Linked DNA regions of Homo sapiens. The protein of the gene in region 1 purifies or fractionates together with the protein of each later gene. This does not show direct contact. Each region holds a gene or a part of one and is shown in the gene's direction. Other genes may lie near its edges.

The links.
Region 2: the proteins of CD300E (region 1) and LYPLAL1 purify together in Homo sapiens (affinity purification with mass spectrometry; one large-scale study listed by BioGRID and IntAct). This does not show direct contact.
Region 3: the proteins of CD300E (region 1) and SPPL2B purify together in Homo sapiens (affinity purification with mass spectrometry; 2 studies listed by BioGRID and IntAct, with this or other methods). This does not show direct contact.
Region 4: the proteins of CD300E (region 1) and CLYBL purify together in Homo sapiens (affinity purification with mass spectrometry; one large-scale study listed by BioGRID and IntAct). This does not show direct contact.

The regions. Positions count from the first base shown.
Region 1 is NC_000017.11:74,617,239-74,620,738, reverse strand, and holds part of CD300E (CMRF35-like molecule 2 precursor), read left to right. Parts: intron 1-3,273; coding exon 3,274-3,500. UniProt on the Homo sapiens protein: Probably acts as an activating receptor.
Region 2 is NC_000001.11:219,180,378-219,183,877, forward strand, and holds part of LYPLAL1 (lysophospholipase-like protein 1), read left to right. Parts: intron 1-3,500.
Region 3 is NC_000019.10:2,338,684-2,342,183, forward strand, and holds part of SPPL2B (signal peptide peptidase-like 2B isoform 2 precursor), read left to right. Parts: exon of another isoform or gene 1-68; coding exon 69-158; intron 159-381; coding exon of another isoform or gene 382-385; coding exon 386-525; exon of another isoform or gene 526-607; intron 608-1,140; coding exon 1,141-1,283; intron 1,284-1,392; coding exon 1,393-1,489; intron 1,490-2,214; coding exon 2,215-2,331; intron 2,332-3,500. UniProt on the Homo sapiens protein: Intramembrane-cleaving aspartic protease (I-CLiP) that cleaves type II membrane signal peptides in the hydrophobic plane of the membrane. Functions in ITM2B and TNF processing.
Region 4 is NC_000013.11:99,865,190-99,868,689, forward strand, and holds part of CLYBL (citramalyl-CoA lyase, mitochondrial isoform 1 precursor), read left to right. Parts: intron 1-1,050; coding exon 1,051-1,218; intron 1,219-3,500. UniProt on the Homo sapiens protein: Mitochondrial citramalyl-CoA lyase indirectly involved in the vitamin B12 metabolism. Converts citramalyl-CoA into acetyl-CoA and pyruvate in the C5-dicarboxylate catabolism pathway.

The DNA.
Region 1 (3,500 bases):
GTGGCTTTGCTTACTGGGCTTTAGATAGTACTCTTATCCACACTGCTGCCCTACCTCTGAAATATAAGTCTTTACAAGTGACTTCCTTTTTTTTTTTTGGCCGGAGTCTCGCTTTGTTGCCAGGCTGGAGTGCAATGGCACGATCTTGGCTCACTGAAACCTCTGCCTCCCAGGTTCAAGTGATTCTCCTGCCTCAGCCTCCTGAGTAGCTGGGACTACAGGTGCACACCACCATGCTCGGCTAATTTTTGTATTATGATTATTATTTTTAAATGGAGTCTCTCTCTGTTGCCCAGCCTAGAGTGCATGGCGTGATCTAGGTTCACTGCAACCTCCGCCTCCCAGGTCCAAGTGATTCTCACCTTCAGCCTCCCAAGCAGCTGGGATTATAGGCCCCCGCCACTATGCCTGGCTAATTTTTGTATTTTTAATATAGACGGGGTTTCACCATGCTAGCCAGGCTGGTTTCGAACTCCTGACCTCTGGTGATCCGCCCGCCTCGGCCTCCCAAAGTGCTGGGATTACAGGCTTGAGGCACCACACCCGGCCAATTTTTGTATTTTTAGTAGAGACAGGATTTCACCATGTTGGCCAGGAAGGTCTCGATCTCTTGACCTTGTGATCCGCCTGCCTCGGCCTCCCAAAGTGCTGGGATTACAGGCGTGGGCCACTGCGCCCAGCTGTGATTTCCACATTTTAAGAACCATCTTCTGTCTTTTCAGAAGATTAATTTGAATTGGTTTCATTTCAATGAGAAGGTTGCCTACTGGAGAGAATAGCCATCATGAATGCAGAAGGCCCTTTCTTTTCTAGGGTGACCTTCCAGATTTGCTAGGTTTGGGGTTCCCAATAGCACTTTTAGGCTTTTCAGGATGAGATTCTGCCTCTTCAAAGGGACTGATGTTTGCTTGGCTTAGAATGGCTTGAAAAGTTGTAAAGTTTGTGAACCAGAAAGACCCCCCAAACCTGGAGATTTACCCAATAGAGACCTGGGGAAGGAAACAGCTCAGTCCAGAGGGAGCTAAAAGTAAGTGGCTCTGGGCTCTGGAAGGGACAAAATGGTCCCATGGTTTCCTCCCTCAGCTGTGCTCTCCCCAGTGTGTGTGTGTGTGTATGTGTGTGTGTGTGTGATTGAGAGGAGGAGTGAAACATTTGCTTCCTAGCAGGGCTGAAGGAGCCCAGGTTGTAATCAGGAGAGTGGAGGACAGATTCCAGAGGAGAAAGCCTCTTTCCAGAGGCCAGGGGCAGAAGGCCAGGCCAGCTCTTACGCAATTGAGGAATTAAAGACTTTTTGGGCTGGAAGGAGCCTGGAAAGCTCTCTTGAGTCTGACTTCCTATCTGCTGCTGGCATCTTCTTGATTGGAGTGGCAGGAATTCTAGGACACATTCAGCTCTGAAGGGACTGGCTCTGATCCTAGCAGAAGAAGAACAACCCCAAGCTCTCCAGCAAGGATCCCTTTAGGAAGCAGCACAAGCAGGCCCCGGCTCCATCACCAGACTCTTGGCTGTGACAAGCCCTTTGTACCCTGCCAAGCTCCCACTGTGGGAAATGCAGTCCTGAGCTCTGTCCAGAACCTAGAAGGAGGTGCTGCTGGGATGTGCCACCTCCAGGAGGAAGCTGGGGGCAGGTGGAAGGGAGGAGGTGAGGACCAGCTCTCAAATCTCAGGAGGGGTGTGCAGCTGCGGGGCAACAGGTTCTTGGGGGAGAACGTAGGTGGGGAGCAGGGATTTGGGAATGGGAAGATTCCTGAGGGCACAGCATCCAGAGCGAGGAAGGTTCTTACGAGAATTAGGACAGCAGAGAAATGGGGAGTGCTCAGAAGGTGCGGGGTCAGGAGCCACTTTGCTGTGGTCAAGGGAGCACAGAGCGGGAAAACACAGGTTTGGAGCAGGGTTTGGGGTAGGGGCTGGGAAGGGGTCAGGGTGGGGGTGACAGGTGCTACTGAGTGTGGAAGGGACCAGGAGGGTGGGAAGAGATAGTGACAGTGAGATTGTCTCAGGCCAAGCATGGTTGGTGGGGTGAGGAAGGTGTGCGTGGTGGCAGCTCACACATCTGCCAAGGCATATGACAGACAGAGCCAGCTGCAGACAGAGTGGGGAGGAAAGGCAGATGGTGGGAGGAGGGGAGGGAAATGAATGAAAGCCAGAAGTCAGGGGCTCCTCCATCCTCAATCACCTCAGATCTAGATGTAGTTAGCTCAGGAGCCCAGATAGTCATAGGACCCACAGATGCCAGGGGCTCTTTCACAATTTCTGCTCATTCTAACGGCTTAAGCTTCCGTGGCCCCTGCGCGTATTCATCCTCTTATTGTGAACTCAGGTTACTCTGAGGGGGTGCAAAGCTCAGCCTCATCACTGTTTCTCTTTCTCTCCCTCTCTCTCACACCCACACACACGTGCACATGCACATACACTCAAGTTCAAACAAAGCCTCTTGTCAGTTTTTCAGCACTTGCTTAAGATATTGGGGGGCTCTGCTGAGCATCACATCCCATAATGCCTGAACTTCTGCCTACCTACAGCCTTTCTTGTCCCTTCTCTTTGCTTCCGTATCAACTTCTCACACTTTGCCTCCCAGATTCTAAACCCCACTTTCCTCCCAGGACCCAAATCACCTCACTTGGTTACAGAGAGCAGCTTCCCTCTTTCCTCTGAATGCATGGTGACCTCTGACTCCCAAGACCTGGGGACTATTGTCGGGGGGGTCATCTTGTGTCCCAAATTCAGGTAAAGAAGCTTATCAGGGCTTCCTTTGGGGACAACCCCTCTTCCCAGTGCCATGTTGATTCTTTCTGGAGAGTGGTTAAGATCAGAGCCGGAGAGTATTTTTCCTCCCACAAGAACACTCTGAAAGTGGAGGAAACCGCAAGTTGTGCTTTTAAAGAATAAGCCTGAGATTCAGAAGACCCCAGAATATATGGGTCTCACTCCAAAGGGAAGTGATCTTGTATATGACCAAATCTCATGCCTGGCAGAGGCTGCAGGGCCCAGGACGAGGTGGGATGACCAGCTCCTCTCTGCTCCTGCCTCCAGCTTTGGTCTCCAGGTGCTGGGGCCCCTGTGCTGTGACTTGGTGTCCCTGCTCTCACAGGGGACAGGTTTCTGCTCTCACAGGGACTCTTTGGCTTAGGTCCTAAGCTCAAGTATTCCTCCAGGTTCCCCTCCCAGGAAACACCCAGGTCTCCCTGGCAATCTTCCCCTTAAGCTTCAGACAGACGGCTGCTGATGGGGCCATCTGGATGGAGACTTGGGACTCGGGCTTGTGTTTTCCAGGCTGTTTGTCTCTGAAGGGCCCCGGCTCTGTGACTGGCACTGCGGGGGACTCTCTGACAGTGTGGTGTCAGTATGAGAGCATGTACAAGGGATATAACAAGTACTGGTGCCGAGGACAGTACGACACGTCATGTGAGAGCATTGTGGAGACCAAGGGAGAAGAGAAGGTGGAGAGGAATGGCCGCGTGTCCATCAGAGACCACCCGGAGGCTCTCGCCTTCACTGTG
Region 2 (3,500 bases), on another chromosome or scaffold:
TTCAAGGACGTTTTTATATGTACTAATAAGAATTTACTTACTTTAATTGATAGAATTGAAAAAGGGAGAACAAAATGATAATGTAAGACTGAAGACTCAAAGGAGTTATTATTTAAATGTAATTTTAATAGAGTTTAAAAGTTTGGTAATCTAGTTAAAAGACCCAATCACCAGTGGTTATTTTTGTGCTATAAATTGCATGTCTTTGAAAATGTCAAAAAAGCTTCTTGTTACTGATTTTTAGGATAGTTGAAGTTGGAAGGAAGAAACATAGTGGTATTTCTGCAGGGATGAAAGATAAGTTCATTTCTACCTAAATATAAATACAATTGTCTGATTAATCATAAGACCACTGAAAACCTTATTCTAGGAATTAATATTTTTTATCTTAAGAATTTCATGTCATTACCAATTGTGATAGGAATTCTAGGCAGTATTTCTCAAACTTTAGGCCAGAGTTATTTCAGAAAATCCAAAAATCTCCATGTGCACTAAGCATTATTTGTGGGTGCTGTTGTGATTTAGTAAAATATGAAATCATTGGACCAGCTTCATGGTAACTTTTTGTTACACAGTTTTATAACCAATAGCTATTTGAACAGATCATCGAACGTTTTAGACCATACTCACCAATAGAAATGTAATATGAGCTACATATAAATTTAAATGTTCTTGATACCACATTATAAAAAGGAAGAAATACGTAAGATTGATTTTAATAATATATTTTATTTAACCCAGTATATTCAAAATATTCAACATGTAATCGGTATAAAATTATTAAAGTGATATTTTATATTTTTTACACTAAATTTTTGAAAATTGGCATGTTTTACATGTACGACACATCTTACTTCTGATGCTAAATAATTACACTGAAATTAAATAGTAGTAAAAATTAGGTTCCTCAAGTTGCCCTGGCTACATTTACGTGCTTCATAACCTTATGTGGTTAGGGGCTGCCATTTTCTACAGCTTAGTTTTAGAACTTAAAGAGGAGTTCCCATATACAGTAGATTGGGAGCCACTGTTCTAGATCAAGTCATCATTTTTACTTATTGGTTTGCTCAAGTTTTCACTTATTAGTAGCAAAACATAGAAGATTTCCAACACATTACTTTAAATATTAAATTATTTAATTGCAATAGAAAATGAAACTGGCATAAACAAATTTGAGAACAAACATAGTTGACTCTTAATAAGCATAAAAAGCATAAGGCTCAGTTTGTGGGAGCAAAAGTGTGAGGGTGTGCAAGAATGAAGCCTCTTGATCTGGACCATTTGGTCTTCCATGGGCGTTAGATATAGGAATACATGGCTTTGGTTAATACTATGAGGCAATTCAGTGGAGGTCAGTTAAGAGAGATGATATCATACTTAGTATATTATAATTAGCTGATTTTTTTCCTACCTTATGCTGGACTAATTTTCTAGAGCAGTTTATATGATACTTACTTCTGTATCCCTACAGACACTGAGGGATACTGTATCTCTAAGCACTTAGCATAGAACCTGACAAATAGATGTTTAGTGAAGATTGAATAAATATCTTGCAGTATTTGCTTGTTGTTGTTATTTAAAATAGTGTAATAGGAATGAGTAATTGTGGGTATTTATATATAATACTAATATTTTAATTGTGTAATAGTTTATGCCTATGTGAGGTTTTAAAAAGTGTATTTTGTTGTGGTAAATAACCTAAGAATTGTTGTTCATAAGGGGTTGCAATTACTTGTCCTAAGACTTGACCCTGCAATAGATTGAGTGAGCACCAGATTATGGGCCAGTTTTAACTAATGAGTCTCAAATTGAGGAGCACTGCGGTATCATTAAGCCTGTAGCTTTTAACTGGTTTCCAGACTTCAGAATGCTGTTTGATAGTATTTTATTAGAATGCTCTGGCATTCATGGTGTACTTTGCTGTTTTAAGACTTCTGACTGGTGTTCCTAACACATTACCCTGTTTAGGCAAGCAGTTTGGGCATAGATTTATTGTCGTTGCTTTTGTAGCATAATATGGCTTCATTTGCGGTTTTAAGGATAGTTGCTACCTTCCATCTATTATGGCAATGTTTCTTGTGCTGCTAATAAGAGAGATTCTGGTGTCATCTACCTTGCTTGCTACCTTTCCGGTGACGTCAAAAGGAGGCATGTGATAGATACGTGCCTTCCTTAACTCTCACTCTTTTTAATGTGATTGGTACAGGATAAAAATGAATTTTAATAACCTTTTTAAAAATTTATCAAGGTTTCATGCTTTAACATGTTGCTACATACTTTCTGATATTGTCCACATTTCTGGTATTTATTCTCTCTCCTGATTTTTTTCTTTCACCACTTGTAAACCCATAAGTTTTTCTGTACTATGGATATTTCATTGACTATGTTATTCCTATAAGGTATATTGAAGATATCACTTGGCTTGTAAAATCATTCCATTGATGGCATGTAAATGATATTCAGGGTTTACCTGCCTGTTAGTTGGCCAGTTTTGTCCTAGAATGTATCTAATCTCTTGTTACATGGAAGTGATGCTTACTATTATGTGGCTTTACCCAAGCCAGTATTTATAGAAATGAGTGAAAATGAAATGTATAAAAGCAGGTTAAGCTTTATTAACTTTGGTACACTATGCCAAGCATATTTCCAGAGAGGCTGTAACAATTGACAGCCTCACCAGCAGTATTCAAGATTCCCATTTGTCTCACATCCTCCTGAACACTTTCCATTGTCTTTTTAATTTTAGCCAAACCAGTAGATGTGTAATGGTATCCTATTGTGATTTTTATTAATATTTCTTTAATACTAATGATGTTGCACACTGTTTTATGTGCTTATTGAGCATTTAAATATCCTCAAAAGAAATGCCCACTCAGATTATTTGCCCATTCTTTTATTTGGTCATCTTTTTCTATTGATTTGTTGGAGTTCTGTAGTTTTTTGGATACAGTTTATTATTGTTGTTGGATATATGAATACAAATACCTTCTCTTTGTGGTTTGCATTTTCACATTCTTAATGACATCTTGTGGACATAAGTTCTAACATGTTTCTTTAAAATTTACAGTGAAATACAGAAATTGTATGTGCATAGTTAATTTTGATAAATTATAGTACAGAGAATTTTGGTAAAATTATGCACCTATTTACCTCAATTAAGTTGGAGAATATTCTCATCACCCCAGAAAGTTTCCTTGTGCTTCTTTCAAGTCAACTCCCATCTCATGTATTATTGTTTGCATATCTATTACTGTAGCATAGTTTGGCTTGTTCTTGAATTTCAGTTAAATTGAGTCACTTAATGAGTGACTTAATGGAATCTTGTGTCTGGCTTCTTTTATTCAAATTGGTATTTTTGGGATTCATCTATATGTGTGTATCAATAGTTCAATTTTTAAAATTCTAAGTAGGTATTATATAAATATAACACAGTTTGTTTATTTATCTACTGTTGTTGCACGTTTGGATCATTTCCAGTTTTGAGATCTAATGAATAATGC
Region 3 (3,500 bases), on another chromosome or scaffold:
GGGCACAGAGCTGGGGGCCCACCCACTGCTGCGGGTGATGCCTGCCGCTCCCTCCTCTGGGCCCCCAGGTCCCCCCGGGGGGTAATAAGACGCAGTATGATGAGATTGGCATTCCCGTGGCCCTGCTCAGCTACAAAGACATGCTGGACATCTTCACGGTAGGTCTGCGCCGGCTCAGACCCACGCTCCCGAGGAGATGGGGCAGGGGGCTTCGGGCTGGCTGCCGGGGGGGTTTGTGCCTCAGTTGGTGGGATCAGGGTGGTGGGTGAGGCGTGGCCCCTGCAGGCCAGGGTCTCCAGCCCCAGCCCCACAGCCCACAGCTGCACGTCGACCCATGGCTGGCGGGTGGCTCTGACGCCTGCCTCCGGTGTGTTCCTTGAGGCAGCGTTTCGGCCGCACGGTGAGGGCGGCGCTGTATGCGCCTAAGGAGCCGGTGCTGGACTACAACATGGTCATCATCTTCATCATGGCTGTGGGCACCGTCGCCATCGGCGGCTACTGGGCCGGGAGTCGGGACGTGAAGAAGTGAGTTTCGCATCGTGCGTGTGCTGTGACGGGGTCGGGCGGCTCTGACACGGGCCGGGACGGCCAGTCTTCCAGAACAGCAGTGAGTGCTTTGGCCTCGGCAGGCACGGCTCGCCCCGTGGAGCCCTTCGTTTCTTCCTCAGGAGGTCCTGGGACAGAATCAGTCTCTTTTCCTGCCAGGGTGGGCTCCGGGCACCTGGTGGGTGTGTAGGGCTGGGCAGGTGTGGATGTGGCAGGTACGGGCGTGGCAGGTGCAGGGCTGGGCAGGTGGCTGGGGCCAGCTACCCTCTTCCTGCTGAGCCGCCTGGGTCTGGGGAGGCCCCATGTCCAGGGCTCTTTATGCAGATCCAAGCTGCGGTTGCTGCCCACACGCCAGCCTCTGGCCCGGCCTAGTGGCCACCCCAGCTCAACCCAGGGACGCGGGCCCTGCCACCCTCTGCTGTGTGGTCTCCTCTGCCCTGGGGACGTTCGGGGCGGTTCCTTGCACTTCAGTCCCCCCCGGGTCCCCTCCTGCTCCCGGGTTTTCTGCCCCGTTCCCCCGGGTGGCTGTGGGCTCCCGAGCCCCGTGTCGGCCAGCCGGCCCCAGGGCCCCACGACCCCATGGTGTCTCCCAAGAAGGTACATGAAGCACAAGCGCGACGATGGGCCCGAGAAGCAGGAGGACGAGGCGGTGGACGTGACGCCGGTGATGACCTGCGTGTTTGTGGTGATGTGCTGCTCCATGCTGGTGCTGCTCTACTATTTCTACGATCTCCTCGGTGCGCGGCCCCGGGCGGGTGGGCCGCGGCGTGGAGATGCAGCCCGCCCCGTGCGGAGGGAGGGTGGCGTGCGGGCCTGGCCCCCGGCCTCACGGCCCTGCCCCTGCAGTGTACGTGGTCATCGGGATCTTCTGCCTGGCCTCCGCCACCGGCCTCTACAGCTGCCTGGCGCCCTGTGTGCGGCGGCTGCCCTTCGGCAAGTGCAGGTGAGTCTGCCCTGCTGGCCCCGACGTGCCTGACTCTGTGCGGTGATGGCCACGGCCCCTTTGCCGCCCCATAGCCCCCCATGGTGCAATATTGCTCAGAGTCTACAGCAGGCGCTCCCTCAGTGCTGGCCTGGGGCTCCTAGGCCCAGGAGCAGGGCGGAGTCTGGGCGAGCTATCAATGGAGCCCACCAGCAGCCAGGCGCCAGGGGTGGCGGGGGGAGGGTGCCCTTGTCCCCAGGAACCCTGCCCCAGGTCGCAGGCCGAACCCTGGGTTCCCCAGGGTTCTCCGGGGAACCCAGAAGGTTCCCCACAGCCCAGAGCTTGGCCTGGCTCTTAGGGGTAAAGGGAGCTGCTGGGGGGTCTCCAACAAAGTCAGACCTGGGTCTAGGAAGCGGGGCTAGCCCAGGGGGAGACCTTTTTGTGTTGCCGTCCCTGGGTGAGGAGGTGGGAGGTCTGGAGCAGGCAGGGCCTCGGGCGAAGGGGCGCAGCGCAGGCGAGGGGCTCTGTGGGTACAGCCCGTGGCCCCCAGCGCCTGCCCGGGTCGGGCTCTGCCCTGCCCTTGGGGTGCCTACTGTTGTCATCGTGTGGGATGTGGAGTTTAATGAGGACAACAGAGTGGGGGCTGCCACTCTGCAGGGGGTGCCTGGGCCGGTCCCAAGGGTGGTGGGCAGTGGGATGAGGCCGGGAGCTGGTGGGCTTGGCTCTGACTGCCCCGTGCCCCCCAGGATCCCCAACAACAGCCTGCCCTACTTCCACAAGCGCCCGCAGGCCCGTATGCTGCTCCTGGCGCTCTTCTGCGTGGCCGTCAGCGTGGTGTGGGGCGTCTTCCGCAACGAGGACCAGTAAGTGCTGCTTCCCCCGGGCCCCGGCGGGCAGCGGAGTCCTCGGGTGCACCAGGGCTCCTGGGGCCCTGACTCCCTGCCCTCCCTGGAGGCCGCCCCAGCCTGGAGCTGCTTCAGCACCGCGTGATGAAGAGCCCTGGCCCCGGGCTGCTCTGACAGGGCTGCGAGGGCGTTTCACCTGGGGTTTGTCCGGGTGTCATGGGAACCCTGACTGGAATCCGGGAGGAGAGGCCGGAGCCCCTGTGGCCAGGAGCCACGTCCTCCAGCCTGGATGGGACTCCTTTGTGGGGCATCGCTGCCCAGGGCCACAGTCTGTCCCCCGCTGTCCCTTTCCTGGCACCCACGTGCACGCCGCAGGTTCGAGGCCCAGGGTGTGGGCACCAGGGCACCCGGTCCTCTTGGTCATGACTGCTGCGGCTTCTGAGCAGTGGTGGAGGTGGGGCAGGCACTGCTCCCCCCACGCTCACCTCCCACGTGGCCTGGACTTGTGGCTGCCTCCCGCTGGCCGGGCCTCCCCCATGAGGCCGAGTGCCTGGTGCCGTGTTGGGAGGACAGAGCTGGCCCGTCCCCGCCCGGTCCCCACCGCTGTCGCTGATACCATCTGGCACTTCCTCCCAGCCTTCCTGAGGCAGCCAAGTACGCTTGGCTTTGGTGTGTATTGGAGCCACGGCACGTTTAACTGGCAGAAGGAAGATGTGAAAATATTTTGAATCCTTTGTACACAAAGAGAAAATGAATCTTTTCAGTTATTTCCAAGCCAGGAAACTCGCTCCGTCACATGAAGTTAGAGCAGGCCTCAGTCAGCTGGGCGCAGGGGCTCACGCCTGGGATCCCAGCATTTGGTAGGCCAAGGCAGGACGATCACTTTGCCCAGGAGTTCAAGACCAGCCTGGGCAACAAGCGAGACGCCCTATTTAAGAAATAATATAAAATCAGAAAAAATAACTGGCCGCAGTTCTCTGGGTGCTTGAAGTACGTGGCGCCTGGAATTGGCTGTACCAGCGTCTCCCATGGAGGCCTCTGCTGTTAGCAGCCGCCCCGCCCTGGAGATGTTTTTATCCCATTTTCAAATGAAGCCTTTGATGTTTGAGACGCTGAGGAACGCTGGGGAACTCGTCCAGCAAGTGACAGGCAGAGCCTGCATTGGGGGCAGGGGCCAGCGGGGAGGG
Region 4 (3,500 bases), on another chromosome or scaffold:
ATATGGCATCTCCTTTGCTCCTAATAAATATATTATGTGAACAGCCTCACCGTTGCTTCAGTATTTTGTTTTCATATCAGTCTGTGGGCTGTCTAGATTTCTAACGCAAATTTAAGGCAATTTCACATTTGCCTTAATGAATTGTTTTCTACAGAATATGCGGTAGGTAAATATTATTTTAAATGGATCTTAAATTTCTCTTACAATATGTTTCGAACTCTTAGTATTAAATGTGCTGATTTTCACCGATTCTCACCATCCCTTGTGAGCTGCACTTGAGGGGTCTGCATGTTTGACTGGAGACCGTGAAGCATTTAGAAAAGAGGCCGAGGCCACAGAAACCAGCCCCAGTGACCTGAAGACAGGCACTTTCCCTAGGCAGGGAGTGGCATGTTCCAAATGTAAACAGGGACACTTCCCTCCCCTCAGGGTGAAAAAACTGAATTTATTTGAATACGAGTCTTTCCAGGAGACTTGTGTATCCAACGGTTCAGCGGGCTACAGAAGGCATATCGATGCTTTCCAGCCCTCTCAAAACAAGTGCCCTCCCGTCTCCCCAAGTTCTCCATCCAGACAGACCCTGAAGCTGAAGCATTTGGCTCAGAACTTCAGTTTGGACAGGGCAATCGCAGCACACACAGTTCTGTGCTTGCTGTGAAACACGAACCATTGCCCTGCATAGCTGCTGGGCCACCCTTTGTGGTGCTGTCTTTGGACTGGCACTTTTCAAGCGATGATAAGAAGGAAAAAAATATATCAGGAGTCCCTTGCGACCCTGACCCAGCCTCCCAGAATGGGGAAGGGGCCTTCTCTTAATGCAGGTAGAAGTAATTCTATTGAAAGATGCCTTGTCAGTTAAACAGACACATTCGAGGTTTAACTTGGCCTCCACGCGTCCCTGTCTTCATTTGTATTTCAATAATTTTATTTTGCGGAGGAGCAATTTCCAGGGAGGTTTAGATATCTGTACAAACTGAGGTTTTATAATAAATATCTGGGTGCGGTTTCCAAAGTTAAAGCCTCCTTTTTCTGTTAACATCCCATTTTCAGGTGCAACAAGTAGTAAAGAAACCCTGGATATTCTCTACGCCCGGCAAAAGATTGTTGTCATAGCGAAAGCCTTTGGTCTCCAAGCCATAGATCTGGTGTACATTGACTTTCGAGATGGAGCTGGGCTGCTTAGACAGTCACGAGAAGGAGCCGCCATGGGCTTCACTGGTATGATTCCTGTCTTAGAAAGCAGTGTCTAAATTAGCAAGCATTCCAGAAAAATAGAAATTTGACCCGAAAACACCCCTAATCTCATCAGATATCTCCCATACTTACTCCACTATTTGAAATATGAGCAAGTCACACAGGGGAAGAACTTGCCAGACACATTGTCATGGTTTTCCTTGGCCCTGCAAGTCAACAAATCACTCATTTTATTTCCTCTTTATATTAGTTGCTTTTTTTTTTTTCTCTCCATCCTCTTAATCATTTTGTTGTAGTCTTGGCTGACCTGTAGGGAGGGATGAGGCTGCTCAAAAAGTGTTTTTGAGTGAACCGCCATAAGAATTTTGGTTGATGGACAGAAGAAAAATCTCCTAGAATATCCAAAATTTAATTCATTTCTGAAAAAAAATGTTGGTGATATTGTCTTTGGTTTTTGTTTTGTTTTTTACTCATAACTAGTTTTTTGCTCTTCTGCCACTCCAAGCCCCTCCTCTCTCTCCCACCTCCCAGTAAGTGTCCGTGTACCTGGCGACACCTACGGGCATAGGCTGGCACTAGGATCAGCGGGTCCCTTGCAGTCCGGTCTGGGGCACAGGCGGGTATCTGTTGATTGGTGTGCCTGGTCACTCAGGTCCCCATGAGCCAGGGGAGCAACAGAAAATTGTGTTTTTACAACAGAGATCTATTTTTCGAAAAACCACAATAGGAGTCTACACACAAACATACACATGGAGTTGCACACACACAAACTGACAACCATGGGAAAAACACAGTGCACTCCTTCACTCTTACCTGTTCTTCTGTTGTTGAAAGTTCTAAGAATATTAATATCAGAAAGGCACCCGAATAATTAGGAAAAGAGACGAGCATCCTGATATTCCTGTTATAACTGTTTTTGAAATATATCTAGGTAGCGGTTACCGAAAGAAAGGTTTCATAAAGCAGGCTTAAACGTGAAAAATATCTTAATGGATGATGATTTAGTCCAAAATAAAACTGAATGACCTAAGAAGCTATTCTAGTGTTATATTCAAATTAAATAAAGCTCTGAGTTTGTTCTTGTGTTTTTTACACAAAGAGCTAAAATAAATATGACCCCCCCCAATTTTTTAAATAAGTGTGATCTCGTATAGGGAAATACTCTTCAATTATCTGAACTATTAATAAACGAATTCTCCCTGCGTTTCATAGCGACTGAGGAAGAAAGGAGTCCTCTGCCACATCCATGCAATTGTGCTTGTTCCTGCCTCTTTCCAACGGCTGGTTAGGATGTGACCCAAATGGAAAAGTTGGAGAAAAACTCCATGAAATTTATCTAATAGACCCTGATGTTGTTGGCCTGCAATGTATGGCACTGGCTGCCAGGTGGCCAGATGTTGCTCTGAAATGGGAACTAATTCGATAAAAAAGAGAAAGCACTGCATCGACACTGGCCCCTCCACCATCACCCAGCAGAATCTGAGTTTCCTCTGCCTCCTCTGGGGTAAATGTTTGCCCCAGAACTTCTCTGGGAGCTGGAGAGTGTCTCCAAGATACAGGACTGAATTAACTTGGCCCCTAATTCAATCGCAGAAGACAGGCTATTTCAAATCAGGTTTAAATTTCTAGACTGTGCCCAGCTCAGCACGAGAAGCTTATGGACCTGGCACTATTGTTTCTCCACGACGGGGAGTATTAAATCGCTAAAAAAAAAGGGGGGAAGCGAGGATAATGGGAAGGCACAGAGGGCACAGTGCCCATTATATATTCAAGGGAACGAGGCCATAACTAGGGAGCCACACTTCGTAGGCAGTTTGCAATTTTTAGAAAGTCTTTGTTGCCCCAATTATATTTCTGCATACCAATAAGAGGTAATCAATCTGATAATAAGATAGATTATTTGTAGTCATTTTTTAAATAAATGTTTTTTAATGAGTACTTTAGACCACTCAGGATGTTTGTCCTAGTTGTTTGGCATTTGATTGCCATACCTTGGGCCTTGCACAAGGAGAAGAAAAAGAAGGAAAGAAAAAAAAGGAAAGGAAAAGTGGGGAGGAGAGAGGGAGGGATGGAGGAAGGAAGACATGTCTTATCTGAAGCAGGTGGTTGAAAGGTTTAAAATCCAATGAAAGTATTGTGTTATCCATAACGCTGGTAAGGAAGACTAAGTCTGTGCTATAAGGATTGCCTTTACTTTTAAAAATGATACATATTTTTAATGAGTTGTAGTTTTTAAAAGTTAGCTGTAGTTTCTTTTCTGCGGTCGTTTCCCAGAGTCACAGTCCATGTCGATTGATTTTAAATCA